Homo sapiens: one gene and its partners. The protein of the gene in region 4 purifies or fractionates together with the protein of the main gene of each other region. This does not show direct contact. Each region holds a gene or a part of one and is shown on either strand. Other genes may lie near its edges.

Evidence for each region.
Region 1: the proteins of P4HA3 (region 4) and PEX14 purify together in Homo sapiens (co-immunoprecipitation; 3 studies listed by BioGRID and IntAct, with this or other methods). This does not show direct contact.
Region 2: the proteins of P4HA3 (region 4) and ZNF687 purify together in Homo sapiens (co-immunoprecipitation; 3 studies listed by BioGRID and IntAct, with this or other methods). This does not show direct contact.
Region 3: the proteins of P4HA3 (region 4) and RSRC2 purify together in Homo sapiens (co-immunoprecipitation; 3 studies listed by BioGRID and IntAct, with this or other methods). This does not show direct contact.
Region 5: the proteins of P4HA3 (region 4) and ZNF444 purify together in Homo sapiens (affinity purification with mass spectrometry; 2 studies listed by BioGRID and IntAct, with this or other methods). This does not show direct contact.
Region 6: the proteins of P4HA3 (region 4) and CASKIN2 purify together in Homo sapiens (co-immunoprecipitation; 3 studies listed by BioGRID and IntAct, with this or other methods). This does not show direct contact.
Region 7: the proteins of P4HA3 (region 4) and AGAP1 purify together in Homo sapiens (affinity purification with mass spectrometry; 3 studies listed by BioGRID and IntAct, with this or other methods). This does not show direct contact.

Annotation. Positions count from the first base shown.
Region 1 is NC_000001.11:10,624,556-10,628,515, forward strand, and holds part of PEX14 (peroxisomal membrane protein PEX14), read left to right. Parts: intron 1-2,716; coding exon 2,717-2,808; intron 2,809-3,960. UniProt on the Homo sapiens protein: Component of the PEX13-PEX14 docking complex, a translocon channel that specifically mediates the import of peroxisomal cargo proteins bound to PEX5 receptor.
Region 2 is NC_000001.11:151,288,260-151,292,565, forward strand, and holds the end of ZNF687 (zinc finger protein 687), read left to right. Parts: coding exon 1-147; intron 148-268; coding exon 269-447; intron 448-835; coding exon 836-1,012; intron 1,013-1,118; coding exon 1,119-1,281; intron 1,282-1,418; coding exon 1,419-1,748; intron 1,749-1,862; coding exon 1,863-1,975; intron 1,976-2,172; coding exon 2,173-2,314; intron 2,315-2,455; coding exon 2,456-2,950; 3' UTR 2,951-3,917; downstream 3,918-4,306. UniProt on the Homo sapiens protein: May be involved in transcriptional regulation.
Region 3 is NC_000012.12:122,516,709-122,521,014, reverse strand, and holds part of RSRC2 (arginine/serine-rich coiled-coil protein 2), read left to right. Parts: intron 1-433; exon of another isoform or gene 434-503; coding exon of another isoform or gene 504-511; intron 512-1,963; coding exon of another isoform or gene 1,964-1,985; coding exon 1,986-2,176; intron 2,177-3,584; coding exon 3,585-3,788; intron 3,789-4,306.
Region 4 is NC_000011.10:74,301,153-74,305,458, reverse strand, and holds part of P4HA3 (prolyl 4-hydroxylase subunit alpha-3 isoform 1 precursor), read left to right. Parts: intron 1-1,046; coding exon 1,047-1,189; intron 1,190-2,866; coding exon 2,867-3,090; intron 3,091-4,306. UniProt on the Homo sapiens protein: Catalyzes the post-translational formation of 4-hydroxyproline in -Xaa-Pro-Gly- sequences in collagens and other proteins.
Region 5 is NC_000019.10:56,147,705-56,152,010, forward strand, and holds part of ZNF444 (zinc finger protein 444), read left to right. Parts: intron 1-4,306. UniProt on the Homo sapiens protein: Transcriptional regulator. Binds to the 5'-flanking critical region of the SCARF1 promoter.
Region 6 is NC_000017.11:75,508,798-75,513,103, reverse strand, and holds part of CASKIN2 (caskin-2), read left to right. Parts: intron 1-3,213; exon of another isoform or gene 3,214-3,379; intron 3,380-4,306.
Region 7 is NC_000002.12:236,129,088-236,132,519, forward strand, and holds the end of AGAP1 (arf-GAP with GTPase, ANK repeat and PH domain-containing protein 1), read left to right. Parts: 3' UTR 1-2,706; downstream 2,707-3,432. UniProt on the Homo sapiens protein: GTPase-activating protein for ARF1 and, to a lesser extent, ARF5. Directly and specifically regulates the adapter protein 3 (AP-3)-dependent trafficking of proteins in the endosomal-lysosomal system.

The DNA of each region.
Region 1 (3,960 bases), on a different chromosome or scaffold from region 4:
GTGGTTACACAGCCGTGGCCGATGCTGCCCTTTCTCTCCTTGTAGAGACAGGAGGCTGTTGCTGGGCAGTCAGTGTGACGTTTAACTGTCGAGGCCATCCTTTCTCTCTCTATGTCACCTCCCAACAGGAGGAAGGAAAAGCTACCCTCTGCCTGTGGAGATCTCATGGCAGCCACATCCCCGCAGCTCTGGAGGCTTTCTGTGTAGACATGGGACGGTCTCTACCTATAAGTTAGGTTGCAGGTCACAGCATGGCCAGGAGGGGTTCTGGAACAGACAGGGGAGAAGCGAGTCGCAGTCAGTTCACCAGCACCAGCCCCATCCACACCGCAGTGCAGCGGGCAGGTTCTCTAGACTCAGGTTCCATGGGTTCTGGCAATCCTAGGGAGCCAGAACCAACTCCCAAGGCAGTGTCCTTGCCTCACTGCCCAAATGTGAAGAAATCTTGGCGTGGCAGCTTCCAGGATCAGGCTGAATCCTGGTCCTGCCACTTGTTAGCTGTATGACCACAGGCAAGTTACTTAACCTCTCTGAGTCTTAGTCTCCTCATCTGTAAAATGGAGCCATAACGGCACCTAATTCCTGGGGCTCTTCATGGGTTCAAGAGGGTGCCTGGCTCCAGCCAGCTCGCAGGATTGCAGGCCTAGGTTCTGTGGGTGGGTAACAGAGGTCATCCCTGAGGCGGTATCAGACAGACCGGGCCCAGGAGACAGTGGCCTGGTAGCTCCAGAACACCCACTGGCTCCTCTCTCTGTCCCTTGTCCCACAGCTCTGTGGCCGGCGGACACTGCTCCCTGTCTGCCCCCACAGCCTGGGCTCTGGAGAGTCCCATCCCGAGTTGCTTACCCAGGGAAAGCCACTCCTAGCGTACGAGTTGGCTTGAGCCAGCACTCAGATCTTTTGCATTTGCAAAAACCATGAAAATGACAATCTTTCCATGGAGTCTGGGGTGTCTCTTGTGAAGAGGGTCCCAGGAATCTCCCCCCTGGATATCCAAACCACACACAGAGGTGCCACCTGCTCTTCCTCCTGGGATGGCTGTGGGTACTGGTGACCACCTCCAGCCACTGCAATGCGTGTTCTCCACGGGTGGCCGGTCCCTAAAGCACCAGGAAGCCCAGCGACAGCCCTGCCTGCTCTCCTGGGTCAGGTCATCTTTTGGATCCATGCTCTGCCTGTGGCCAGAAGCCATTCCGGAAATTGGAAAACTGTTTTCAGGCCTTACGCCTGAGATTAAGACCACATGTTGTGTTTAAGAAGCAGTGGGGGCCCGGGATGTGCTTGGTGGTGAGAGGGGTTGGGCCCCTCAGAGTCCCTCGAGCTGGCTTTGCTGCCGCTGTCCCTGGCCCACCCCAGCCTTCTCTCCCGAGCTGCATGGGGCCACTGGCTTGGCATCTAAACGCGTATGTGTGAGGACTTTGGTTACCCCATAAACCAAAGACCCAGAGCTGTGTTTTCTCAGCTGTAATGTAAGTTTTTATATCTGGCTTCCAAACTCCTACTGGAGCACTGTAAAAAATTAAAAAGAAGAGCTTTAAGTAATTAAAAAACCTACATAAAACTGAAGGCTATGAGTTTTCTACAACTGTTTTTTAAAGAGGCTGGCTAAAAAGCCCCAGATGTCAGATTTTATTTCTAAATCCTGGCATCTGGCACCATATGCGTTTGGAAATCTGAGTCCCTTGTAGGCCAGTGAGTGGAAATTGTGCCCTTGTTCATGGGCTGCTGTAGCTTTCAAGGTCTCAGAGAAGCCAGAGCCGTGGCTCCTGGGTCCTCCCTGTCTGGCGGTCTGGAGTAGGAACCCTGAGGGGCTGTGTCTGGGGGTGGTGGGTGACACGCACTCACTCTCAGACTGCCCGGGTTTTCCTTCCTGAGACCTACAGGCCCTCTGAAGGACTTCTCCCTGCTAAGGTGTGCCAGCTGGACTGCTTGCTGGGGTGAGCCCACAGCAGCCCCCGACCCCACGTCAGAGGCCAGGCCTCTGTAAGCCAGCCAGCGGCCCACAGCACACTGGTAGGGAACAGCCAGGGAACGTCCCCTCTGCCCACCTCGGGGGAGCAGTATCAGGAGAGCTGGCAATATTCATCTGTGCACTTAAAGATGGCCTGGGGTGGCCTTCAGCCTGGGCGAGGTAGACCTCACACGGAGGCCTCGTGGCATTGTCCTCTGTGCACATGCCACAAGCAGGTTGCCACCAGCAGCTCGCATTTGGGGACCTCTGGTTTGGCTGTCCTCTTCCCCGTCTATACCAGCAAGATTTTCCAGAAGTAAGATGTAGTTCTGTGAAGTTTATTTGGAAAACAGTGTTACCTTCAAAGGGGAAAGGTGTGCATGGAAGGATGGGGTTTGTCAGAGATGGTGGCTGTTTCCTCTTTCCACCCCGGACCATCTTAAATCCCAGACATCATCCCACTTCATACCGCACCCGCACGCCTCCGCATGTCTCTAAAAGACGCCCACGATACCATTATGTCACCTAAAAACACGTAATGATTCCTTACGTCATCAGATGTCCAAACAGAGCTGTGGGAATGTTTAAGGATGTTGTCATCCAGAGACGTGGCAGGCAGTGGGCAGTGGCAGAACCTTCCCCCGGGTTCCCCAGAACAGACCCAGAAGGCCCCACCTGCTGCCCCCACCCAGGTCCTCCTGCAGCCGCAGGCCCCGCCCGTGCCGCAAGGCGCCCGCCCTGAGCCTCCCTGTGCTCTGCTTTCAGGCCACCACATCCACCAACTGGATCCTGGAGTCCCAGAATATCAACGAACTCAAGTCCGAAATTAACTCCTTGAAAGGGCTTCTTTTAAATCGGTAGGAGGGAGGAATGGGGACCCTGTTCTGGTCGGGCCTGGAAAGGAGGACTGGGAGCTCTGGGGCATGGGAGGGGCATGACGCCCACCCCCACCCCCAAGGACCCCATCTGTCTGGGCGACTCAGGCACTGAGTCTGGGGCCTTTTGAGCTTCTCTCTTCATTCCCCAGTTGACACCCTCTCCACTCCAGAGGTGACGGTCTGTGGCACACAAGTTTTGAAATACAGTTCCCAGGCCTGTGAAGACCTGGTCAGGGACAGCTTGAGCCAAAAAGCAGGGCCCTTGGAGCAGAGGAGAACTTCCTGGTTTGGCTCCTCCTTCCTGAGCTCCAGGTGACCACTCAGTGACAGCTTTGTCCCAGGGAAAGCCCCTGCGGGAGAGTCTTTGTGTTTTGTACTTGGAAGGGTTCCACAACTGAAGACGTGGGCAGAAGCAGGCCCTGCCCCCCGGCTTCTTGGTTGTCCCCCTGTTGTCCCTCTGTAGCGACAGCACATTGTCACCAATGCAGCCTCAGAGGTAGGGTGACCAACTTGTCCTGCTTTGCCTGGGACTGTCCTGGTTTTATTTATTTTTATTTTTATTTTTTTTTGAGATGGAGTCTCGCTCTGTTGCCCAGGCTGCAGTGCAGTGGCACGATCTCGGCTCACTGCAACCTCTGCCTCCCGGGTTCACGCCATTCTCCTGCCTCAGCCTCCCGAGTAGCTGGGATTACAGGCGCCCGCCACCACTCCCGGCTAATTTTTGTATTTTTAGTAGAGGTGGGATTTTGCTATGTTGGCCAGGCTGGTCTTGAATTCCCGACCTCAGGTCATCTGCCCATGGCCTCCCAAAGTGCTGGGATTACAGGTGTGAGCCACTGTGCCTGGACTGTTCTGGTTTTTTAAAACTGAAAGTCCAGTGTCCAGGAGCCACTCTGTCCTGGGAGCCGCAACTGTGGGCCATCCTCCTGGGCTGATGCCCTAGTGGGCCTTGCATGGGGTGTCCTTGTTTCCCTGCTGGGCTGGATTTGTTGGGAGCTGGGTGAGTGGGAGGGTGCAGGTGGGCTTTTCACTAGGGTCCAGGATGGGGTGCAGAGGGGTCTTGCGGCTCCAGCCAGAAGACCCCATTTTCCAAGCCACCCAACTTCCCGGTTTTCCCTGAGGAAAAGAACA
Region 2 (4,306 bases), on a different chromosome or scaffold from region 4:
CTCTCCACAGAGCCGCCTGCTGCCCCGGCCACCTCTGCTTACACATGCTTTCGCTGCCTGGAGTGCAAGGAACAGTGCCGGGACAAGGCTGGCATGGCAGCTCACTTCCAGCAGCTCGGCCCCCCTGCCCCTGGGGCCACCAGCAATGTGAGTCACCTTTCACAGCCCTTCTGTGGGGACAGGATCTAGGAAGGCGTTGGGGGCTTGGTTAGAAGTAATGGAGACAGGACACTCCTCACCGACTTTCCTTGTTTAACCCACTCGACAGGTGTGCCCAACCTGCCCCATGATGCTCCCCAATCGCTGCAGCTTCAGCGCCCACCAGCGCATGCATAAGAATCGACCCCCCCATGTCTGTCCTGAGTGTGGGGGCAACTTCCTGCAAGCCAATTTTCAGACCCATCTCCGGGAGGCCTGTCTGCACGTCTCTCGCCGTGTAGGATACAGGTGCCTCGGACCCTTCCTCCATAGAACTGTAGGGTTTCGTGTGTCCTAGCCTCAGCCTCAGATGGCCTTTCAAGATCCCCTATCTTCCCTGCTATATCCCTCAGCCCTGTTGTTTTGCCAGACTCAACCCTGAGATAGTACGTCCTGCCTTCCCGTCGTCCCCCATGGAGATGGGGGGAAGCAGGGCCACCTCTGGAGCTCCAGCTCTCCCTTGGCAGCCTCCCTTGGGGCACAGCCTCTGCACCTCTCTCCTTTCTCCACCCTGCTCATGCTCCACTACTGATTTCCTTCTTGTAGTCTACCCAGTCCCAGAGAATAAATGTATGGTCCCGGGGTGGGCATGGAGATGCCTCCCACCTCACCACAGGGCCTCCTGCTTCCTCCCTAGGTGCCCCAGCTGTTCAGTGGTGTTTGGGGGTGTGAACTCCATCAAGTCCCACATCCAGACGTCGCACTGCGAGGTTTTCCACAAGTGCCCCATCTGCCCCATGGCCTTCAAGTCTGGGCCAAGTGCCCATGCCCACCTCTACTCCCAGCATCCCAGCTTCCAAACTCAGCAGGCCAAGTGAGGCCCGGGGGAGGGCCGGGCTGGGCCAGGGAGGGCTGGTGGGGCGCAGGAGGGGAGGGGCTGCACCCAACCCTGCCTGATGTCTGCACTGTCCTCACTTCAGGCTGATCTACAAGTGCGCCATGTGCGACACAGTCTTCACTCACAAACCCCTCCTCTCCTCACACTTCGACCAGCACTTGCTGCCCCAGCGTGTCAGTGTCTTTAAGTGCCCGTCTTGTCCTCTGCTCTTTGCCCAAAAAAGGACCATGCTGGAACATCTCAAGGTACAGGAGCAGAGGGATGGGGAATGGGTGCTTAGCTGTACTGACCTGGGGCTGGGGCCACATACTTCAGAAGTGGGGGGCTTTGGCATAGCCAGGCCCTCCCCCACAACAGCAACCTCCCTTGTCTCCTCTCACAGAACACCCATCAGTCTGGGCGCTTGGAGGAGACTGCTGGGAAAGGGGCCGGGGGTGCCCTGCTGACCCCCAAGACTGAGCCTGAGGAGCTGGCTGTTTCTCAGGGAGGGGCAGCCCCTGCTACTGAGGAGTCGTCTTCATCTTCAGAAGAGGAGGAAGTACCCAGCTCCCCTGAGCCCCCCCGTCCAGCCAAACGGCCTCGGCGGGAACTAGGGAGCAAAGGCCTCAAGGGTGGGGGTGGGGGGCCTGGAGGCTGGACCTGTGGCCTGTGTCACTCCTGGTTCCCTGAGCGTGATGAATACGTGGCCCACATGAAGAAGGAGCATGGCAAGGTGAGTGGGCCCCAAGGGGAGTACCATGGGCTGGGGGCAGCATTGGGACTGCCAGTGTGACAGTGGGGACGGGGTCCTGGAGCCTGGCTCTGACATCTACCCCTGCTCTCCTAGTCAGTGAAAAAGTTCCCCTGTCGCCTGTGTGAGCGCTCCTTCTGCTCCGCCCCCAGCCTGAGGCGCCATGTCAGAGTTAATCACGAGGGCATCAAGCGAGTTTACCCCTGCAGGTAAGTCTTGCTCCCCGCTTCCTCTTCCTGCCCAGCACGTGACTCTCCCTGTATGCCAAAGTACCTGTGCACCTGCGACGTGTCTAAGTGGCCTGATGGTTGGGGTCTCCCTCTGCTCTGGCAGCCCCCTCCTCAGAAGCAAGGGCCCTGGCCTTCGGGCTGTGCCGCTGCTGCCATCCTGTCCTCTCCCATTTCAGGTATTGCACAGAGGGAAAACGCACCTTCAGCAGCCGCCTGATCCTAGAGAAACATGTCCAGGTCCGGCACGGCTTGCAGCTTGGGGCCCAGTCCCCTGGCCGGGGGACCACCTTGGCTCGGGGTTCCAGTGCCAGAGCCCAGGTAGGCAGAGGCCCGGCCTGCTGTGCTAGGGCTTTGAGTGGGAAACTGGAAGGCAGAGACCATGGCCTCAGGAAGCGAGCATGGGGGTGCCAGGGACAGTAGGGGTGGTGGTAAGGCCCAGTTTCTTCCACTTTTCTTCAGGGGCCAGGTCGGAAACGCCGCCAGTCTTCTGACTCTTGCAGTGAGGAGCCTGACAGCACGACACCGCCAGCCAAGTCCCCCAGGGGCGGACCTGGATCTGGAGGCCATGGCCCTCTGCGCTACCGGAGCAGCAGCTCCACAGAACAGAGCCTCATGATGGGGTTGAGGGTGGAGGATGGTGCCCAGCAGTGCCTCGACTGTGGCTTGTGCTTTGCCTCCCCTGGCTCCCTGAGCCGACACCGTTTCATCAGCCACAAGAAGAGACGGGGTGTGGGTAAAGCCAGTGCCCTGGGGCTGGGGGATGGGGAGGAAGAGGCCCCTCCATCAAGGTCTGACCCCGATGGTGGAGACTCACCCCTGCCTGCTTCTGGAGGCCCACTGACCTGTAAGGTCTGTGGCAAGAGCTGCGACAGCCCTCTAAACCTCAAGACCCACTTCCGCACGCATGGCATGGCGTTCATCAGGGCTCGGCAGGGGGCTGTTGGGGACAACTAGTCTCCAAGGCCTGGGACTGACCAGCCCCTTCCTCTTGGAGCCTGGTTTTCCCTACTGCTGCCTGATCCCTCGGCTGGGGAGTTTTCATTAACATTAATATTTTGTTAATTCCTGTCTCTCCAACCTGAAGAAGAAGAGCATTTGAGGATTATTCTAGTTATTTGCAACCTCCCTTTGGGTTTGGCCCTGGAGTCCTAGTAGAGTGGACCCTCCATTCCTCCTTTCTGAGCCCAACACTAATTAATTTTATGCTCCTGCTGCAGAACCCCCAGTGTGGGCCTGGGGGTGGGAGGATGGGACTTAGGTATGCCTGCTAGACAGGTTCAGGGAAGGACTGATGGGGGTGTCATGGATGGACACACCTCTCCACAATTCCTTCAGGCATGGACTGGAACTTTCCTCCTCTAGGCCGGGCCCTGCCCTAGTGCCCACCCCCGCCCCCGCCCCCGCCCAACCCCAACTCACTGGCACTCAAGCCCCCTACCCCTGCAGTGCCTTTCACTTCTTTTTTTCCCCAGAAATCCGGGGCGGGGGGGTGGGGGGTTGGTAGGGATGAGTCCTGTCAAGGGGGCCACAGGAGAGGAGGGGACAGGCTCTCAGGAATCCTTTATTCTTGTAGTAATAATAATACTAACAAACAGTTGGGGAACTAGGGAGAAAACCAGACCATTAAAACTGTTTGTGGTCGAATCTCCATTCAGGCCTCTCTTTTTCTGTGACTTGGACAATGTGGAGTTGAAGCGGGTGAGAGAACATGGAAGGCCCGCCCTTCTCAGGGAAGAGGTGGTAGTGACCAAGACAGGCAGGGAAAAAGCAAACTTCTATGTAGTGCCTTTTGTATCTTGGACACTGAGGCATCCGTTCATACCTCATCACCCATCTCCCCCTGCACTCCCCCAGAAAACCTGGAAATGACACAAGTGGCTAACTAAGGACTTTATTTCAAACAAAAATTAAAAATAAAAAATTGAGAGCTCTTTTCCCTGGGTTTGGGGAAGGAGTCAGGGTAGGGAATTCCACATGGCTAGGCCAGTACCCTCAGTACACTGGAGGGCTGTGGGAATTCCCTTCCTTGCCCATGATGGGGAACCTCAGCAAGTGCAGGGCCCACGCAGCGCCCGCCAGCAAGGGGAGCTTGGGCCAGGGGTCGGTCCCTGGGAGGGGTAGGTCCCTGGGAGGGGTAGAGCTGGGCAGCAGCATGGCCAGTGGCCAACCACAGGATCAAGTCCTAAGTACCGAGAACCTACTCTTCCCCACTTCCTGGGCCCCAGAACGGAATAAGAGGATGGCCTGTGGAAAGAACCTCTGAGAGACCCCTACAAGGAGAAGAAAGGCCCCAGTGTCCCTCACATTTGT
Region 3 (4,306 bases), on a different chromosome or scaffold from region 4:
TAGATATCTGTGCGCTGCTTTTTCCTTATGAACGATAACAGGAGTTCTCTTTTCTTTTGCAAACTAGTTCAGTTTCCCTAATAGTAGTATTGAATTTTGAAATAAAGGTTTGAGTGAGGGACAGCTGAAAAGGTGGCGGTGACACCAAAACTTGAGGAAAAAGAAAGGCAGCAGCTGTATTGCAAAGGAGTTACTTGTTCACCCACCTGAGAAGACAAAGAATGAGCCAATAAGGAAGTGTAGAAGTAGTAGCCAGAAAGGGAGAAGAGTCTTGTGGGGGCTGGGTAAGGGACTCCTAAAACAAGAGTGGGCAGGGACTTCACCTCTTCCCGTAATGGAAGCTCTGTTAAATTTTTAATTTAGGAGAGTTTTTGTGAAAATGACTATTTTGTTTAGCTCACATGATAACATTTCTATAATAAATCATACTCAGCGTGCTTATGCGCGAAGAGACTGAACTGAAGACGCTGCAGACTCAGATAGCAAAATAATAAGCCTACTTCATGATAAGGTAACTATTAGTCATTCAAACTCCTATTTCCCTTAAATATATCTTAAATCAGTTAAGGGTTTTAATGTTTTTTTTAAATTAATAGTAATGTTATGTTTGAAAAACTGGTTTGAAATAAACTTTAAAACCTTTAGAAGTTTAACCACTTAAGACTTTTCCAGTCTGCCTCGTTATAGCAAAACCAAGGAAAATTTCTTTTCTAAGCTCCTATAGAGAACTGGCAATGAAACTAAAATTTAATTGTGTCTCCAGGTCTCTTATTTTTCTGCAAATAATAAATTATGTACTATGATCATTTTCAGATAAATCATCATGCATGTTCCAAAATGATTGGCCAAGTTTTATTTTTAAGAAACATTAATCGTGAGTGGAAAGAAACATGCTATGGCCTTTTGGGAGACAGTAGTGTCTTATTACAGTGGAAAAGTGGTAGCGTGGGCATCAGAAAAACATGGGGAAGGTTCAGCTCACCCATGTAGCTTTGTAACTTTAGATCTTAGTTATACATAAAATAAGGGGATTAAGTTAGAGGATCTTAGTTTCCTTCCAGAATTAAAATTTAGTGATTCAGAGATGTCTAGGATTTTAAACTTTCACTACAAGATGAATTTGACAGATCTTCCTGTAGGGAACTGTAGTATGTAGCACTTCTACTTTGGTATTTGGTAGGATGAGACTTGATCATGCAGTTAATTTGAGCTGAGTCTCTGAATGCACATGTGAAGGCCTTGGTCTTTTTAAAGTGTGGGGGCAGTATGTATTGTGTGATGGCATGTGGATTGTTATACCTAGTTTGGTTTCTTTAAAATTGAAACATACAGTTGCCATTTCTACCCTAGGTACATGAAGTGTAATACTCCTCTAAGCCTATTGGGATACTGCAAGATGAAAAGTGATTGCTTCACAGTTTAGACATTGGGAGGAAAATCAAGAGCTGTCTTTTAGAGGATGTAGCAGGCAGTATAACTGTAAAAGGGACACTGCATCTCTGTGTAAAATAATTTGAAATTATAGAAAATATTAGTACTTAGTAATAATTATATTTAGCTACCTAATTGAAATGCGTTTCTGGTGCACTTTTTGTGTCATTATCTCCATTACTTACTTAAACTTAACATTATGTAATCTGGATTTAGAAGTTGATGTATATACATGGTCTGTATTCTTTTAGATAAACATAAGGGATTCCTCTTTTGTCTGGCATAATGGCTTTTCAATATTTCAACTTTAAAAATCATTGTTTCTGTTGTATTGAAAATATTTTGGGGAGGAACTACATTTTGGGTGTTTATAGTAAAAAAAATAGTAATTACATCTGCAACATTTGGGTGATGTGAAACTAGATCTTTTTTTTATTTGCCACACACTCCTAAGGTTACTAATGTTGCATCACAACATTTTTGTCTACTGATACCCATACTAACTCTCTTTGTTGCACTATTTTCCTGAAAGAACCAACTTCTTCTTAAAACAGGGAAGAAGACATGAATCCAAAGATAAATCCTCTAAGAAACATAAGTCTGAGGAACATAATGACAAAGAACATTCTTCTGATAAAGGAAGAGAGCGACTAAATTCATCTGAAAATGGTGAGGACAGGCACAAACGCAAAGAAAGAAAGTCATCAAGAGGCAGAAGTCACTCAAGATCTAGGTCTCGTGAAAGGTAAGTCATGTTGTATTATAATGTAGTACCTTCTAACAAGTTACATAAAGTTTCTCATTGACCCAGCAACACCCAAAAAAATCATAATTAGGGAGTTTTTCTTGTTCGTTTGTTTGGGTTTGTGGTTTTGTTTGTTTTTTGCCTTTGGGCTTTGCTTTCTCATCATGCAAAAATGGTTTCCAAGAATGGGGTGTAAGGGATGACTAAATCTCAAGTGCCTAGATTTCTTTTCCCTTTTTTTTTTTTGACACGGAGTCTTGCTGTGTTGCCCAGGCTGGAGTGCAGTGGCATGATCTCGGCTCACTGCAACCTCTGCCTCCTGGGTTCAAGTGATTCTCCTTTCTCAGCCTCCCAAGTAGCTGGGATTACAGGCATGTGCTACCATGCCTGGCTAGTTTTTGTATTTTTAGTAGAGATGAGGTTTCGCCATGTTGGCCAGGCTGGTCTCGAACTCCTGACCTCAGGTGATCCACCTACCTCGGCCTCCCAAAGTGCTGGGATTACAGGTGTGAGCCACCGTGCCCAGCCTAGATTTTCTTTTTTGAGATGGTCTCTCTGTTGCCCTAACTAGAGTGCAGTGGTGTGCTCTCAGCACACTGCAGCCTCTTGTCCTCCAGGGCTCAAGTGATCTGACCTCAAGCCTCCCAAGCAGCTGAGACCACAGACATGCGCCACCACACCCAGCTAATCTCTTAGTATTTTTTTGTAGAGACGGGTTTTGGCCATGTTGTGCAGGCTATTCACGAATCCCTGGGCTCAAGCAGTGTGACGGCCTTGGCCTCCTGAAGTGCTGGGATTTCAGGAGTGAGTCACTCTGCCCAGCTGAGATTTTTAACCACTTAATCTGTCTGGCACTGAAAAAATCATATTGTTAAACTGTGTGGTTTAAGCTGATAAACAGTCCTTTTGCATCATCGATGGTGATGTTGGTGTTTGCTGCTAAACTGCAATCTAGATTTTTTTTAATGTTGGAGTATAGATAAAAAGATTTTTGAGAAACTGGATCACAGCTCAAATTTGTGAATGGTTTTTGGTGGGGTTTTTTTTGGAGAATTCTGTGGGTTGTGTGTGGTATCAGACTCAAAAATTTTTAGTAGATAAACTAAAGTATTAAGATTTGTAACTACTGTGGGAAGAGTATTAAACGGAAGCTTAAATTTGGGTAGGATGCATTGAACGCTTTTGACATGTTAATAGGTTTACTATGTTCTAGGACAAATTATCAAACAAAATGAAGGGTTCGTTTTCAGTTAGTATTTCCTTTGAAAATCTCGCTTATTTCTGTAAATAATATAGTGCAGTTACTTGCTTGTCTTTATTGCGTTACTACAAGTAACTAATTCATGATGTGTATAAATGAAACAACACAACTTTTAAGTAATTACAAATTTGTGCACTTTAATTTCAGACGCCATCGTAGTAGAAGCAGGGAGCGGAAGAAGTCTCGATCCAGGAGTAGGGAGCGGAAGAAATCGAGATCCAGAAGCAGAGAGAGGAAGAAATCGAGATCCAGAAGCAGGGAAAGAAAACGGCGGATCAGGTCTCGTTCCCGCTCAAGATCAAGACACAGGCATAGGACTAGAAGCAGGAGTAGGACAAGGAGTAGGAGTCGGTAGGTGACCATCATCCTGAATAAAATTTAATAGGACCCTCAGAGAGTCTGTTTATCTTCCTCAGTAAGAGAGTATTAAAATTGTGAGTCACAATTCTATTTATAGATTATGGTAAAATTATTTTAGTCATTACCTAACGTATGAAGAACACACCTAACCACTTGAATAGCATTCACAGGTATTCTCGTGATTGATAAATCTCTTGCGAAGTGCAGGTATGAATAGGCCTATTAAAATGCAGTTGTTGGCTAGGTGTCGTGGTTTACACCTGTAATCACAACGAGGCGAGCAGATTTTTTGAGCCCAGGAGTTCAAGACCAGCCTGGGCAATATGGTGAAACCCCATGTCTACAAAAGATATGAAAATTAGCCTGGGGTGATGACCCACACCTATGATCCCAGCTACTTGGGAGGCTGAGGTGGGATAATCACTTGAGCCCAGAAGGCAGAGGTTGCAGTGAGCCAAGATCATGCTGTTGCACTCCAGTCTGGGTGACAGGAGTGAATCCTGTCGTAA
Region 4 (4,306 bases):
AACAGTGTGGCTTTGTTTCAGTTTCCTCTCTGTGGAATGGGTAAAATTAAATCTACACTAAGGGTCGGTTGGAAGGTGGGGGGTAATTAAATGAGACAATCTATTTAGAGCACCCAACAGGCCAATACATGGTAGGAGCTCAATAAGTAATAGCTTTCAGTATTTTAACAAATCATTCAAGATTCAGATCACATGCCATCTCTTCTTGGAAGCCTTTCCTTCCCCCTTCTAACTCCCACCTGGATGAGCTGCCCTGCCTGCACAGCTGCAGCATTATATGCTCACTTCTCTCATAGCAGAGAGGTCCCCAACCCCTGGGCCAGGGACCGGTACCAGTCCATGGCCTGTTAGGAGGCGGGCCCCCCAGCAGGAGGTGAGTGGTGGGCAAGGGAGCATTACTCTTTGAGCTCCACCTCCTGTCAGATCAGCCACGGCATTAGATTCTCATAGGAGCGTGAACCTTATTGTGAACTGCACATGTGAGGGATCTAGGTTGTGTGCTCCTTATAGGAATCTAACTGGTACCTGATGATCTGAGGTGGAACAGTTTCATCCCGAAACCATCCCCCAACCCCCCGGTCCGTGGAAAAAATTGTTTTCCATGAAACTAGTCCCTGGTGCCAAAAAGGTTGGGGACCACTATATAGCACATATCACAGTGGTTATAATTAATTCAATAGTGTTTTTGAGTTTCTACCAGATACTAAGTATTGCATATACAGTGATGACAGGAGAAAAAGACTTTGTGATCCCTTTGAGAGCTGGACCCTGTCTTGCCTTTATATCTCTAGCATGGTGCCTGAAATACAGTAATTGATTAATATAGACTGACTCATTCAGTGAACAAAAGAGTGGACCTACTTTTGTTGTATCTATAGTTTTCATATTCTTTGGGCTTGCATGGCTTTTTGGTTGGACTATTATGTGAATCTCAAGAGGTTCAGCATGTCAGTGTTAGCTACTCTTAATGTACACACACCATGCCAGCCTTCCCTAGGTGTAGTGGTTGTATCAGGAGGTGAGATCATTCTACTCCTTTCTTTCAGATTCTACGACAAGGTACTTTCTTTGCATGAGGATTCAACAACCCCTGTGGCTAACCCTCTGCTTGCATTTACTCTCATCAAACGCCTGCAGTCTGACTGGAGGAATGTGGTACATAGTCTGGAGGCCAGTGAGAACATCCGAGGTAATGAGGAGGAGGGCTGGAGGGTAAGAGAGAAGATTCTATCTCCTGACTCGGTGGTAAGGAGAGAGATTCTGTTGGGATGTGATTTCAAAGGGTAATGGAGTAGGTGGGTATTACTTAATATCCTTAGCTCTAGCTAGCACAAAGAATTAGGCCCGCTTGCTAATCAGTTTATATGATTATACCTTAGAAAGCACTTTCATATCAATTGTCTCATTTGATGTTCACTACAATCCTGTGACAAAGTACAAGCCTTCCATTTATATATGTATAGAAAATAACGGTCTTCTAGTAGTTTCTGTTTCATTAAATTGTCACTACAGTGTCATCTATAGCAAGATCACTTTCCTAATTTATTCTACTTTGTGCTGTAAGAAGTTTGTTGACGGCCAGGCGCGGTGGCTCACACCTGTATTGCAGCACTTTGGGAGGCTGAGGTGGGCTGATCACTTGAGGTCAGGAGTTCCAGACCAGCCTAACCAACATAGTGAAACCCTGTCGCTATCAAAAATACAAAAATTACCGGGGAGTCGTGGGATTACATGCCTGTAATCCCAGCTACTCGGGAGCTGAGGCAGGAGAATTGCTTGAATCCGGGAGGCAGAGGTTGCAGTGAGCCAAGATCGCACCACTGCACTCCAGCCTGGGGTGACAGAGCGAGACTTTGTCTCAAAAAAAAAAAAAGTGTTGACTTTTGGGCTGGGCACAGTGGTTCATGCCTGTAATCCCAGCACTTTGGGAGGCTAAGATTGCTTGAGCTCAGGAGTTCGAGACTAGCCTGGGCAATATAGCGAAACCTATTAAAAATAACAAAAATTAGCCAGGCATGGTGGCGCATGCCTGTAGACTTGGGAAGCTGAGGCACAAGAATTGCTTGAACCCAGAAGGTGGAGGTTGCAGTGAGCTGAGATTGCGCCACTGCTCTCTAGCCTGGGCGACTGAGCAAGACCCTGTCTCAAAAAAAAAAAAAAAAAAAAGAAGTTTGTTGATTTTTGGAAAGCTAACAGTGAGAAGAGTCTGGGTGTGGTTGCTCATGCCAATAATCTCAACACTTTGGGAGCTTGAGTTGGAAGGATCACTTGAGGCCAGAAGTTTGAGACCAGCCTGGGCAACATAGCAAGACCCTGTCTCTACAAAAAAATTTATTTAAATTAGATGGATGTGATGGCGTGTGCCTGAAGTCCTGCCTACTCAGAAGGCTGAGGTGAGAGGCTCACTTGAGCCCAGGAATTCAAGATTATAGTGAGCTATGATCATGCCAGTGTGCTCCAGCCTAGGCAACAGAACAAGATCCTATCTCTATTAAAAGAAAGAAAGAAAAGAAAGAAAAGAGGAGAGAAGAGAAAAAAAGAAAAGAAAAGAAAAAGAAAAAAAGAAAAAGAAAAAGAAGAGTTGTCTCCCTAAAGAGTGAGACTCCTGTAAACATACAGGATAGGACAATATAATGAAGCTGTATGCCTTAATTTTTATTCCTCATTCACTCATTCTGAATGTTCCTCATTCAGAATTGCATTAAGCATCCACCCTGTGCCAGGAACTGTGCTTGCCTCTGGGAACACAAAGACAAATCCAACTTGATGTCATTAAATATTTGAACAGGTGGTCATGCCTTACATGTATTAAATGCCCAACTCCTGTTTCTTGAATGCTGGGTTGATGTTTTTACTACTTTTACAGCTCTGAAGGATGGCTATGAGAAGGTGGAGCAAGACCTTCCAGCCTTTGAGGACCTTGAGGGAGCAGCAAGGGCCCTGATGCGGCTGCAGGACGTGTACATGCTCAATGTGAAAGGCCTGGCCCGAGGTGTCTTTCAGAGAGTCACTGGCTCTGCCATCACTGACCTGTACAGCCCCAAACGGCTCTTTTCTCTCACAGGGGATGACTGCTTCCAAGTTGGCAAGGTAACAATATTCAAGAGAGGGCCAATTGCTTGGCTCTGGTTTCTTATGGATAAAATAACTATGTACCGATTGATTTTACTTCTTTTTAATACTTACAGTAAACTTGGAAATTTGATATCATTTCCATTTTCAGAGAAAGAAAACAAGATTCAGAGAGGGTAAATAACTTGCCCTAAGATTATGCAATTTTAAGGGCAGAACTAAAGCTTGAACCCAGTCTTTTGACTCCAAATCTCAGGCCCTTTCCATAGTAGTTAAGGTGTTTATATACTTAGAACACTCTTGAGATTGAAAGGGGTGTTATTAATTATGCTAGAACAACAGACATGAACTAGGAAAAATGGTCCTTTGTTCACCCTAACTATAGCACCCTGCCAGTGCATGAACTCCTGGGTAGAAAGGGAAAGCAGGGGGTCAGGGACGCAAGGTTGGGGAAAAGGATAAGAGATGGTGATGGAAAGGTAAGATCACGGAAACAGCCTCCTGAGACTTTCTGGAATCCAATGCAACATTTCCTAAGCATTTGGAAGTACAAAATTAAAGTAGTGTCCAAAATCTAAGGCCATTCACTTTAACATTACTTGAGGAAATAGACTTCAGGAACACCCCCGCCCCCCATCTGAGGTATTTAACTGATCTTTGATTATAAGTTGTAATCACACGTGAGATCATTTTGTAATATACTCTTTGCCAGCCTTTGCTATAAAAAGCAATGGAGCAAATCCATTTTAACTTTGAAGATGTTTATTGCAGTAAGGTGTATTTTTCCTGACTCCTACAGTATTCATCAACAGATCTGGGAGTGGGTCTCATGTGTCCTGATTCCAAGTTTTGGGAGTCAGTCTTCCAAATTAAGGCAGAGTAGGCTGCTTGAGTCTCTCTACATACTGTTTTCTCTTTTCTGGGATCCTGAGTGGAATCAGAGCTCAATCATCATGTTCATGGCTGATTTAAATTTAAGCCAGGTAAAGTAGTTTAATGTATGGTACTAACATATTAGTGAGGCCTTTCTGAAAGTAAAACCGTATGTTGAAAATTTAGTAAGTCACTTCCTGGAAGTCTTACTGGCAATCTTTCTTTCTATATTTATTCACTTATTTTGAGAGAGAAAACTTTTCAAATATAAGAAAAGAACATAAAATAATATAACAAGCAATTATATCTATTATTGTAATGAATATATGTTCAAATTTTGCTATGTTTGTTTCATTTTTAA
Region 5 (4,306 bases), on a different chromosome or scaffold from region 4:
CAAACTCTACCCCAAATTCATCTTGCTTTTGGGCTGGCCTGAGTCCCCCGGGGCAGGCAGACCCTCCTTATCATGCGTGAGGCTCCAAGGGCTCAGAGATGACTTCCCAGGGGCAGAGGGCAAAGCCAGGCCTCTCTGGGCAGGTTTGGTTTCTTGACCACACAGCAGGCAAGGGCCGACTCACGTTCTGGGTGAAGTCTTGGTGCACAGCCACACCCACCCACTCATGTCACCTGGGGCTGACACTTGCCACCGTGATGACCACAGAGGGCCCGAGGAGCTGGAAGTGTTGACTGCCTGGCCCCGTCAGGGAAGTTGCCAGCCTGGCTTAGAGTCCTGTCGGGGGATGTGTTATGTGAGCTGCACATGCCATCTTAAGTGTTCTAGTCAGCACGTTAAAAAAAGGCAAATTTACTTCATGGACCCCAATGTGTTCAAAATACCATCCTTTCAGTAGTGGCACTCTCCCATGGCTGGTGGCTGCTGTGTGGGGCCTGGGTGATGAGCGGTGGGCAGCCACGCAGAGACCTCTGAGAAGAGTGGTCCAGGCCACGAGAGCAGCCAGTGCAAAGGCCCTGAGCCACCTCGAGCGGCACAGGGGCCCTGAGTGAGGGGGTGTTTGCGGCCAGGCCTGAGTCCCCAGTGGCAGGAGGGTGAAGAGTCAGAGCAGTCGCGTGTTCCTCATAAGTGCGTACCGAGTGCCTGCTGGGTGCTGAGATGTAGCAGCAGAGAGGGGGCATCTCGGTGAGGCAAAGCGAGCAAAGCCTTCAGTCCATGGCAGCCGGGCGGCCTTCCTTCCTTCCAGAGGGAGCAGCTCCCGTCAAGGCTGCCAGTGGCCTCATCCGTCTCCCTTCTCATGCGGCCCGACCAGCCCCCAGACACTCCCCCCTCTTATTGTCTGGGATACAGCTCGCCCCTCCTCTGCTCCTGCCTCCTGGCACCTCTGTGCTGGCTCTGGCTTCTCTATCCTCGCCCTCCTTCCGGGTCATTGTTCCCAAAAGTGGGTTGTAACAAATCACAAACGCAGCGGCTTACAAATCACAAACGCAGCGGCTTAGAAATCACACAAGTCTGTTACAGTTCTGGAGGTCAGAAGTCCAAAATGGTTTGGTCTCATGGCCCAAAATCGAGGTGTCTGCAGGGCCACGTCCCTTCTCAAGTCTCCAAAATCAAGGTGTCATCTGCAGAGCCACGTCCCTTCTCAAGGCTCTAGGAGAGAATCCGTTTCCGGCCTTTTCCAGCTCCTAGAGGCTGCCCGCATTCCTCGGCTCATGGCCCTTCCTCCGTCCTCAGAGTGCTGCACTCCGACCTCTGCTTCCATCCCCCATCACTCCTCCGACCTTGACCTCTGCTTCCATCCCCATCACTCCTCCGACCTTGACCTCTGCTTCCATCCCCCATCACTCCTCTGACCTTGACCTCTGCTTCCATCCCCATCACTCCTCCGACCTTGACCTCTGCTTTCATCCCCATCACTCCTCCGACCTTGACCTCTGCTTCCATCCCCCATCACTCCTCTGACCTTGACCTCTGCTTCCATCCCCCATCACTCCTCCGACCTTGACCTCTGCTTTCATCCCCATCACTCCTCCGACCTTGACCTCTGCTTCCATCCCCCATCACTCCTCTGACCTTGACCTCTGCTTCCATCCCCCATCACTCCTCTGACCTTGACCTCTGCTTCCATCCCCCATCACTCCTCTGACCTTGACCTCTGCTTCCATCCCCCATCACTCCTCTGACCTTGACCCACTTAGGTCCTGTGGTCACTTATTTATTTATTTATTTATTTTACTTTAAGTTCTGGGATACATGTGCTGAACGTGCAGGTTTGTTACATGTGCCATGAAGGTTTGCTGCACATACCAACCTGTCATCTAGGTTTTAAGCCCCACATGCCTTAGGTGTTTGTCCTAATGCTCTCCCTCCCCTTCCCCCACCCCCCGACAGGCCCTGGTGTGTGATGTTCTCCTCCCTGTGTCCATGTGTTCTCATTGTTCAACTCCCACTTCTGAGTGAGAACACATGGTGTTTGGTTTTCTGTTCCTGTGTTAGTTTGCCAAGGATGATGGCGTCCAGTTCATCCATGTCCCTGCAAAGGACATGAACTCATTCTTTTTCATTGGTGCATAGTATTCCATGGTGTACTGTGGTCACGTCTTAGGTCACCTGTGATGACATTCGGCCCGTCAGGATAGTTCAGGAGAGTTTCCCCATGTCAGTGCTTAACTCCCTCCCATCCACAGAGTCCTTGTTGCCCTGAGACAGCAGATGACAGGTTCTGGGGATCAGACCGTGTACATCTTTGGGGCCATTATTCTGTCTGCCACAGAGGCGAGGTGAATGCAAGGTGAAGTGGGGGTGGAACAGAACCAACGTGGAATCTGTGAGCCTCGGGGTTTCGCCCTTTCCAGTTTCCATGACTCCTCAGAACAGGACCTGGCACATGGGTGCTGTCTAGGTAGATTTCAGCCACTGTTACCACTCTGAGCTCATGCCATCTGTTTTGTTGGCATTAAAATGTTCTTTTAGGAAAAGATGGTAAAAGTAGGTGGTGGTTATTGTTGCTTTTAATGTATATATCTTGCAAAATAAAAAAAAATCTTCCATTCGGGGATGCAGTGAGAGTTCTGTTGGTTCAGTGAATCTAAAAGTCGGGAAATCACCAGGCTCCAGGCCGTCGGGACTCTCCTGCGTTCTCTGCTTGCTCCGAGGCGAACCTCTCACTGTGGCTCTGGGATGTCTTTAGCATCTCTCTTGTATCTGTTACTCTCTCTTTTTAATAAGGGCAGATCTCAGGTTCAGAGCCTTCTCCTATCAGTGTCCACACAGACGGGAATAACACTGCCGTGAGTGATGGAATTTCCCATGACCTCTCTCTCTGGCACATGATACTGGCTTTCCATTTCCAGCAATGATACAACATGGTCTTAAGTCAGTGTTATTTTAGTTTTAGGTAAAAGTAAAGAAGAGTAATAAGAGCCTGGGCGATAGCCATTGTAGCTGACGGTGGTGTATAGACAGCTGACATCTGGGGGCGCTGCTGTGGATTGGGGTTTCTTGGCATCTGGTCTGTGGGAGCTGACGGTGACGCATAGACAGCTGACATCTGGGGGCGCTGCTGTGGATTGGGGTTTCTTGGCATCTGGTCTGTGGGAGCTGACGGTGGCGCATAGACAGCTGACATCTGGGGGCGCTGCTGTGGATTGGGGTTTCTTGGCATCTGGTCTGTGGGAGCTGACGGTGGCGTATAGACAGCTGACATCTGGGGGCGCTGCTGTGGATTGGGGTTTCTTGGCATCTGGTCTGTGGGAGCTGACGGTGGCACATAGACAGCTGACATCTGGGGGCGCTGCTGTGGATTGGGGTTTCTTGGCATCTGGTCTGTGGGAGCTGACGGTGGCGCATAGACAGCTGACATCTGGGGGCGCTGCTGTGGATTGGGGTTTCTTGGCATCTGGTCTGTGGGAGCTGACGGTGACGCATAGACAGCTGACATCTGGGGGCGCTGCTGTGGATTGGGGTTTCTTGGCATCTGGTCTGTGGGAGCTGACGGTGGCGCATAGACAGCTGACATCTGGAGGCGCTGCTGTGGATTGGGGTTTCTTGGCATCTGGTCTGTGGGAGCTGACGGTGGCGCATAGACAGCTGACATCTGGGGGCGCTGCTGTGGATTGGGGTTTCTTGGCATCTGGTCTGTGGGAGCTGACGGTGGCGCATAGACAGCTGACATCTGGGGGCGCTGCTGTGGATTGGGGTTTCTTGGCATCTGGTCTGTGGGAGCTGACGGTGGCGTATAGACAGCTGACATCTGGGGGCGCTGCTGTGGATTGGGGTTTCTTGGCATCTGGTCTGTGGGAGCTGACGGTGGCGTATAGACAGCTGACATCTGGGGGCGCTGCTGTGGATTGGGGTTTCTTGGCATCTGGTCTGTGGGAGCTGACGGTGGTGTATAGACAGCTGACATCTGGGGGCGCTGCTGTGCATTGGGGTTTCTTGGCATCTGGTCTGTGGGAGCTGACGGTGGTGTATAGACAGCTGACATCTGGGGGCATCTAGTGGGAGCTGACCGTGGTGTATAGACAGCTGACATCTGGGGGCGCTGCTGTGGATTGGGGTTTCTTGGCATCTGGTGTGTGGAAACTGACGGTGGTGTATAGACAGCTGACATCTGGGGGCGCTACTGTGGATTGGGGTTTCTTGGCATCTGGTGTGTGGGTCCTCGCCTGTCCTCAGAGTTTTCACCGAGACATTGCCGGATGAGAAGGAGAGGACAGCCGAGGAGAGGCTCCTGTACTGGTAGAAA
Region 6 (4,306 bases), on a different chromosome or scaffold from region 4:
TCCTGTCTTCGTGGAGTTGCCTTCTAGCAGATGGTCTTTCTGATGTGTTCTTTGGAGCCATGAGATTTCTGACAGTGGGTTAGAGAAGACTGAATAGATAGAACTTCATCCCTACCCCCAACCTCAAACGCACACATTTCAACCAGAGCACCTCTATGTTCGTGTCTTAAGAGGATATCTATAAGATAGCTGTTTTTTTTTTTTGAGACGGAGTCTTGCTTTCTCACCCGGCCTGGAGTGCAGTGGCATGATCTCAGCGCACTGCAGCCTCTGCCTCCCGGGTTCAAGCTATTCTTCTGCCTCAGCCTCCCGAGTAGCTGGGATTACAGGTGCCTGACACAACGCCTGGCTAATTTTTACTAGAGACGGGGTTTCACCATCTAGGTCAGGCTGGTCTCGAACTCCTGACCTCAGGTGATCCACCCGCTTCAGCCTCCCAAAGTGCTAGGATTGCAGGCATGAGCCACCGCACCAGGCCACGAGATAGCTTTTAAAAAGGGAATTCTACTGCTTAAAAAAAGTTCAACACTCTCTAACAAGTTGCTAAAGTTTCTCTTCCCCTGACATGTGTGTCCTGGTGGGGTGTGGCCAGAGCTCATTTACTGGAGATTTTCACCTAGCCTCGAGACCTGACCGGGCTGTGGGGGATCCATGCACAAGCGGCCACACCTGAGCCCCATGTCTTGGGTACCTCTGTGGTGCGACCCCCCACAGGGAGAATAGACCTCTGGGCTTCAGGGAGGGCTCTCTGGGCTGTCCCAGGAGGCCGCTGGACTTGTCACCTTGAGATCCCAGATCAGCATAGGCAGGAGGTGGTTCCTGCCACCAGACTGAGGCAGGAGGAGTTCCCTGGATGGGAAGGTCTCCTCTGGAGTTCAGGGGCTCTAGCCCCAAGATACACCTCGGTCCTGTGCACAGGAAGGAGTCCCCCAGGCTACCTGAACACCTGGGGTATGGGTGCCAGAGGAAGGGCCTTAACCTCATGCATCCACTAGCACACTGGGGCAGGAGACGCAGGGCCTGGAGAGGTGGAGCTGTGGGGTGGTCTCTGTGCCTAGGGAAGTGGACACAGGGTGGGTGCCACTGGGGAGGTGCTAAGGAGGTCCCAGGGGAGGGCCCTAAGGTCCAGCAGTGCAGCCACTCCCCTCTTCTGTCACCTCTGTGTTGTTTTTGGCAACCTGCCCAGTGGGGCCTTGGTCAAGCTGCTGCTGGCCTCACCGCTCTGGGTCCTCAAAGTGAGGCCCTCAGGAGGGCAGGCGGGAGGGGTTTGGAGGCCAGTGGCGGGAACTGCAGAGCTGGGCTCTTAGGCTCCGAGAAGTTCCCTTGTGCCCAGTGGGAAGCGTCTGTGGGGAAGGAGGTCCCTTCCCTCAGTCCCAAAGTGGAGAATTCACCCTGCGCAGGCTGTAGGCTCAGGCACAGCATGACTGGGGCCTGGGATTCCTTATGAGGCCCTGGCACTGTGCCTCCCCTCCCAGTCCTCTGAGAAGCTGGAGAGGCTGGTGACAAAAGTGAGATCACAAGGTGACATTTGCAAACCTTATAGTGTATGAAATATTATAATTTCCTCACTTGCCTGTGAGATAGGTATTTCAATATCCGTTCTGTAGATAAGGAAAGTGATGCTCAGAGAGGGTTAGTGACTTGCCTAAAGTCACACAGCCATAGCATGGCAGAGCAGAGGCAAAGCTGCACCCTGTCCCCTGTGCTCTGCACTCAGCTGCCCATCAGTATTACCTAGGGATTGTTCTGTTCTTTTCTTTTTAAAGAGATAGGGTCTCACTTTGGGAGGCCGAGGTGGGCAGATCACTTGACGTCAGGAGTTCGAGACCAGCCTGGGCAACGTGGTGAAGCCCCGTCTCTACTAAAAATACAAAAATTAGCTCAGTGTGGTGGCAAGTGCCTGTAGTCCCAGCTACTCAGGAGGATGAGGCAGGAGGATCGCTTGAACCTGGGAGGCAGAGGTTGCAGTGAGCTGAGATTGTACCACTGCACTCCAGCCTGGGCAACAGAGCAAGAGTCTGTCTCAAAAAAAAAAAAAAAAAAAGGACAGGGAAAGAGATGGGGTCTCGCTATGTTGCCCAGCCTTGAACTCCTGGGCTCTAGTGATCCTCCTGCCTCATCTTCCCACCTCAGCCTCCTGAGTGGCTGGTACTACAGGCAATGCCACCATGCTGGCCTAGGGATTGTTTCAAAAGTGCAGACTGGGCCAGCCATGATGGCACACACCTATAGTCCTGTTGGCCCTGTGCACAGGAAGGAGTCCCCCAGGACTCCTAGTTAGCCTAGGAGTTTGAGACTGGCCTGGGCAACATAGTAAGATGCCATCTCTACAAAAAAATTAAGAAATGATCTGGGCATGGTGGCACATGCCTGTAGTCCCGCCTATTCAGGAGGCTGAGGTGGGAGGATCGCTTGAGTCGGGGAGGTCAAGGCTGCAGTGAGCCGAGATCGTGCCACTACACTCCAACCTGGGCAGCAGAGCAAGACCCTGTCTCAAAAAGTAATAAATAAGTAAAAATAAAAGTGTAGACTCCTTGGACTCCCCTCAAAATCAGACTCATCACAGAGGGCCTGGGACTCTGTGTATCAGAAAGTTCTCCCCATGATTTTACTGCAGTTCTCAGAAGTGAGGCTGGGGACTCTTGCTCCATATCGTAAGAAGGCAAGGGAAACTGCTAAAAGGGAGGCGTCAGGACTCCCCTTTTTTCTTCTGGGGTTTAGCTGGCGCTTTATAGCTATCCAGAGAGAGAACAGGGAGGTGGGAGATGCTCCCTCAGCCTCCTGCATTTGATATCAGGCCAATTCCCTGCCCCCACCCGGGTCCTCTTCAGGGAGCAGGTGGCTGAGAGAAGAGGGGTACAGTTGCCCTGGCCCTGCTCCCCGCCCCTCGCCGCACCACTCCCTTTTCTGAACAATCTCCTTCTTTGGCCAGAGGAAATGGGGTGTGCTGGGGCGGCCGGCTGAGCTCACATCCTCTGCCCGGGAGCCTAAATCAGGAGCCACCCTTCCACCCCCAGCGCCAGGCCCGGGAAGAAGGTTGTACCGCAGGGGAAGTGCCTGGAGTCACTGCCAGGAACCTGGACCCTCTGCCCTCCTGCCAGGGTCCCCAGCCCGGTCACTCTGAGCCTCTTCCCCACCGCCTTTCCGGCTATTGTTCTGAAAAGAACGGAGCCACCCAGCCTGGCCCTTGCCCTGTTCCTGTCCTGCCTGTCACATTGTCCTGCTCCTCTCGGGAGGGACTGCATCCCGCCACCCAGCTGCCTCATCCCAAACTGTCCAGGCTGTTGGAAGAGGAGGGCTAATGGAAGAGTGGGCAGCTTGAAGGGTGCTCTGTGTCTCTTCCCTGCTGACCGCATTGTCTCCACTGGGGCTCAGAGAGGTACCGTGGCAGGCCAGGGTCACACAGCCAGAGTGAGCATTTGAACTGTGCACTTCCGCTTCTAGAGCCCCTCTTCTTTCTACTGCCTCAAATGGTTCTGTATGACAAGGACTTTCCAAGGGGACTGGAGGAAAATGGAGGTCTGTGTTTCTTCCCAGTGGCCACAACCCCTTTAGCGCTTTGTCCCTCCCTGGCTCTGTCTTTACCTTTGTGGCACAGTGTCCTTCAGTTTGGCCCTCAATGTAGCTGTCCCCTCCCTCCCTGTGCCATGTTCCCTACTGCCAGGTTGGTCCCTCCCCTCCCTGTTGGAATGAAGCCCTGTCTTCCCCAGGCTACTGGGGTATTCAGGGGTCCACCAGAGCCTGGGGGGCAGGCCTGGGCCAGCACACTTGGCACTCTGCCCAGCCTGGCCAAGCCAGGCCCACTCCTTCCCTGCAGGGTGGGTTCTAGCAGGAGGCAGGGGCCACCCATGACAGGCCTTCCTTCCCTCCCCAGCACTTCAAGAGCCACTCCCACCAGTTCCCTGGCTCTCGCAGGGAGCACACCTGCCTGAACCCTGCCCCGAGAGGGGGTGGCCCCAGCTCCTCTTGCCACCAACCTGCAGAGTCCTTGTCCAGGGCATGGACATCTCAGCCAAGACCCTGGAGGTGTGGAGTCAGCAGTAGCAGTGACTCCCCGGGCAGTCTGAGCACCCATGGAGATCCCAGTGGGGACAGTATGGGCCCTGTGCCAGCTCTTGTTGGAGGACCATCGCCCTAACATCGGGATGGTATTTGCCCACATGTCAGGAGGGCTAGATGTTGAGAGCTCCTGTCTTTGCATATGACAAGGTCAGGCACTGTACTCACAGCCCCCGTGAGCAGGTTCTGATCAGCTCATTTTACAGTTGAGGACACTGAGCATGGGAGGTTAAATGACTTGTCACAG
Region 7 (3,432 bases), on a different chromosome or scaffold from region 4:
CAAAAAGCTAAATAAGGGCCTTTGGCATCAATGCGTGCATTCTCCACCTTTCCGCGGCTTGCGCTTGGATTTCTGAGTGGCTTTCTTCAGGGAGCCCTTGTGGTCATGTGTCTTTAATGCTGCTCCCCATGCCCCCAGGCCAGGCCAGCACGCTCAGGTGATAGCGAGTGGGGCCAGGAGACCCCCCTGCCCTGCCCAGTGGACAGATCTGCCCCAGCCCTGCTGTGGGGACGGGCCCTCTATCATTTAACCACATACATTAGGTTGCTTTTCAGCAAAATGTCAGCTTTCCTCCCATTATGCAGGAGAGAGAAGGGGCGCAGGTGTATCTCCTTAGAGTACACCTTGGAGCTGGATCACTAAGAAACAGTCCTCAGACTGGTCCTTCCGACACAGGCAGAGAGTGAACTGGATCGCTGGCCCCTGGGATGCTGCGCTGTCTGTGATTAGAGAGAAGTGGCCAGTGTCCCGTCTGTGATTAGACAGAAACCCCTGTGGCAGACTCCTCCCCTCTCCATGAAGAAAGAAATATTTACTTAGATATTACTGTTTCAAAACACAAACTTTATTCCCCTTAGAGAAGAAATACTGCCCTTAAATAGACTGTTGAAATATTAATGGCCCCCCCATTTAATCAGTGTGTCTGCGGCTTTCTTCGCGTCACATGTCCGCATTGGCAGGTGATTCTGGAAAGGGATTCTGGGAAACCAACAAGTCTTTTTTAAATCTTTGAGTTGTATGAGAAAGTATTTAAGTTCACCAGTGTAGTAAACACCCACCCCAGAGCAGCGGTAAGCAAACCTAAATCTGAAAACCCATTCTTACTGTCTTTCACCATGAGATGCTGGTTTTGGTGTAAAATGACAGCACTTGGTTTGGGGTTTTGCACCTGTTGGGTAGAACTGTTCTTGTCTGAGGTCCTCACCCTCTACAGATGGGCCTCAGGGCCTGGAGGTGGGCAGATGGGGCCAGAGTGGCCAGCAGAGACTTGCATGGGCTCTGAAAGCCCCAGAGCTCAGGCCTAAGGCTGCTAGGTGAGACCAGCAGGCAGCTGTGGCATCCGACCTTGGGACGCCCAAGCTGGGCAGCCGCTCCATGTGCCCCAAACAGGATATCCTCATGAATGTGAGGAGAGGCTGGCTCAGGGCTTGGTTTTCATTTTGGCCTGGCACAGGGTACCTGTAGGGAGCACTCCCCCAACCTGAGGATGGTGAAACCATATGATAGAGACTCCTTGTCGAAGTCCACATCGGACTGATCTAGAATGCCCCGTGGGGGGATTGCATGGCCTTTGCCTTGAGATGCAGGTGAAAGAAAGGAACCAAACAAGGCATGAGTGTGTTGGGGAATCTTCCCAGTGGAGCAAACCCCCTTAACACACCAGCTGTTGGGAACAGCTGCCCCTAAATCCAATTAAACCCTCATCTCCCTGGTGCTGAACAGTCTACACTGGCCCAGGAAGCTAACGTCTGAGCCGCTTGGAGAGCTTTGGTAAACAGAAGACACTGGAAGCCCACTCGGTCAGCAGCTGGGCATGAGGATGTCAGGGGCCTTTGGACTTGAGGAAGGACAGTCCAGGTGCATGGAATCCTAATGGGCCTCATGCAGACACTGGAAGCAGCCCAGCCCCCTGCCCAATACCACAGCCCTGGGGTGTCCCCTGACATTCCTGGAGGTCCCTGGGCAAATGCATTTCCTGCCTGGGTTCTCAGGGTAGGAGAACAGAGAAGGCTCCAAGGGTGTTGGGAGTGAGCCAGGGGCTGGTCTGGGGAGTGGGTCTCACGCACTGCTCAGGTTGGCACGAGGGACCTCCCCCATCCCAACCCAGCCCCAAGGGTCCCAGCAGGGCTCTCAGCATGGCTGTTTTGAGGGTACACAGGTGGCTGGAGAGGGGTGGGGCAGTTGCATGGTGGGTGGCAAAGTGTGCATTTAGAAGCTGCTTCGTGGCGTTAAGAACGGGGGGAGAGGGACCAGCACTGTAACGTTAGAAATAATTCCTTCTTGCAGACTTGAAAAGCATCAGTTTCCCTCCCACGGCTGGGTTTTTGTGTCTGAAATACATCTAATTCTCCAGACTGCAGCCCCTCTCAGCCCCGAGCACCTGAGCGCTGGGGAGGCCCTTATTGAGCTCAGCCTGGAGAGGGGAGGGTCGCACGGGTCCCGGGGGCAGGTCTCCTGCACTGGCTCTTCCCTTCTGCCAGCTTGGAATTTGGTTCTCATCTTGCCACAGGGGTGCGTTTCCTAAAGGGCAGCCGGAGCAGCTCAAAGGTGACAACTGAGATGCATTTCTAGGCAGGGGCAGGGAAGGCCAACCCACCTTGCAGCCAGTTTTCTGTTTCTGTAAATAGCAGTGTATAGAGATGGAAGGGCAGCGTGGGTGTATCCACAGATGGGTTTAGGTTTTTTTTTTGGATGTTTTCTATTACCTCATTCAGCAACTTTATGTTTCACAATGACTCAATGATGCTTTATTTATATTGTTTGTACTGTAATTAAAACCATTGACAGACATTTCACTTTGCTTGTTATTTCATATGATCTTGTTTTGATTAAATATGCCAGTTTGTATTTTCCTGCCTTGGGATTTTTTTGTGTCCGCTGTACAGTATTCTAAGGGAAAAAGAAAAAGAAAGATGTGTAAAGTAACAGAGAGAGGTGGCTATGGTGTAGAGACCTCTTTCTAATAAAGAAATGAAAATATGTCTACACCGCTTCCGTGGAGTTGTTGTTTTTTGTTTTTTGTTTTTTTTTTTTTTGGTGGCGTTGGTCATTTGTCACAACTAATTGTGTTTCTAAGCCCAGGAAAGGTAAATCAGAGAGAAAAGGGGCTCTGTCTGCTGCGGGCAGGGATTGCCCCAGGCCCAGGCTGCCCCAGGCCCGAGGGACTCAGCACACGAGTTCACAGACGGAATGAAGAAAGAGACCAGGAGTGTCTCTTCTGACTTCTTCCTTTACAAGGACAGAAACTCCAAGAGAATGTTCTTTGCCCAGCCAGGGTTGACTGGGCCCAGAACTTCCAGATGCTTCTGTATCTTTGCACTGTGCCACACTGCCCCAGGTGTGTCGTAAGAACTATTCCCAGCAGGTGGCTAGCAGTAGAACCATCCCAGGACTCTATTATTAAGACCGTTATTATCATTAATATTACTGTAATTTTTGCCTACAAACTACATTATATCTTCCCCTCCAAAAAAAAAAAATGAGAAAACTGACCAGGCCTGGTGGTTCACACCTGTAATTCCAGCACTTTGGGAGGCCAAGGCGGTTGGATCACTTGAGGTCAGGAGTTCAAGACCAGCCTGGCCAACATGGCGAAACTCCGTCTCTACTTAAAATATAAAAATCAGCTGGGCATGGTGGGACATGCCTGTAATCCCAGCTACTCCGGAGGCCGAGGCAGGAGAATCACTTGAACCCAGGAGGCGGAGGTTG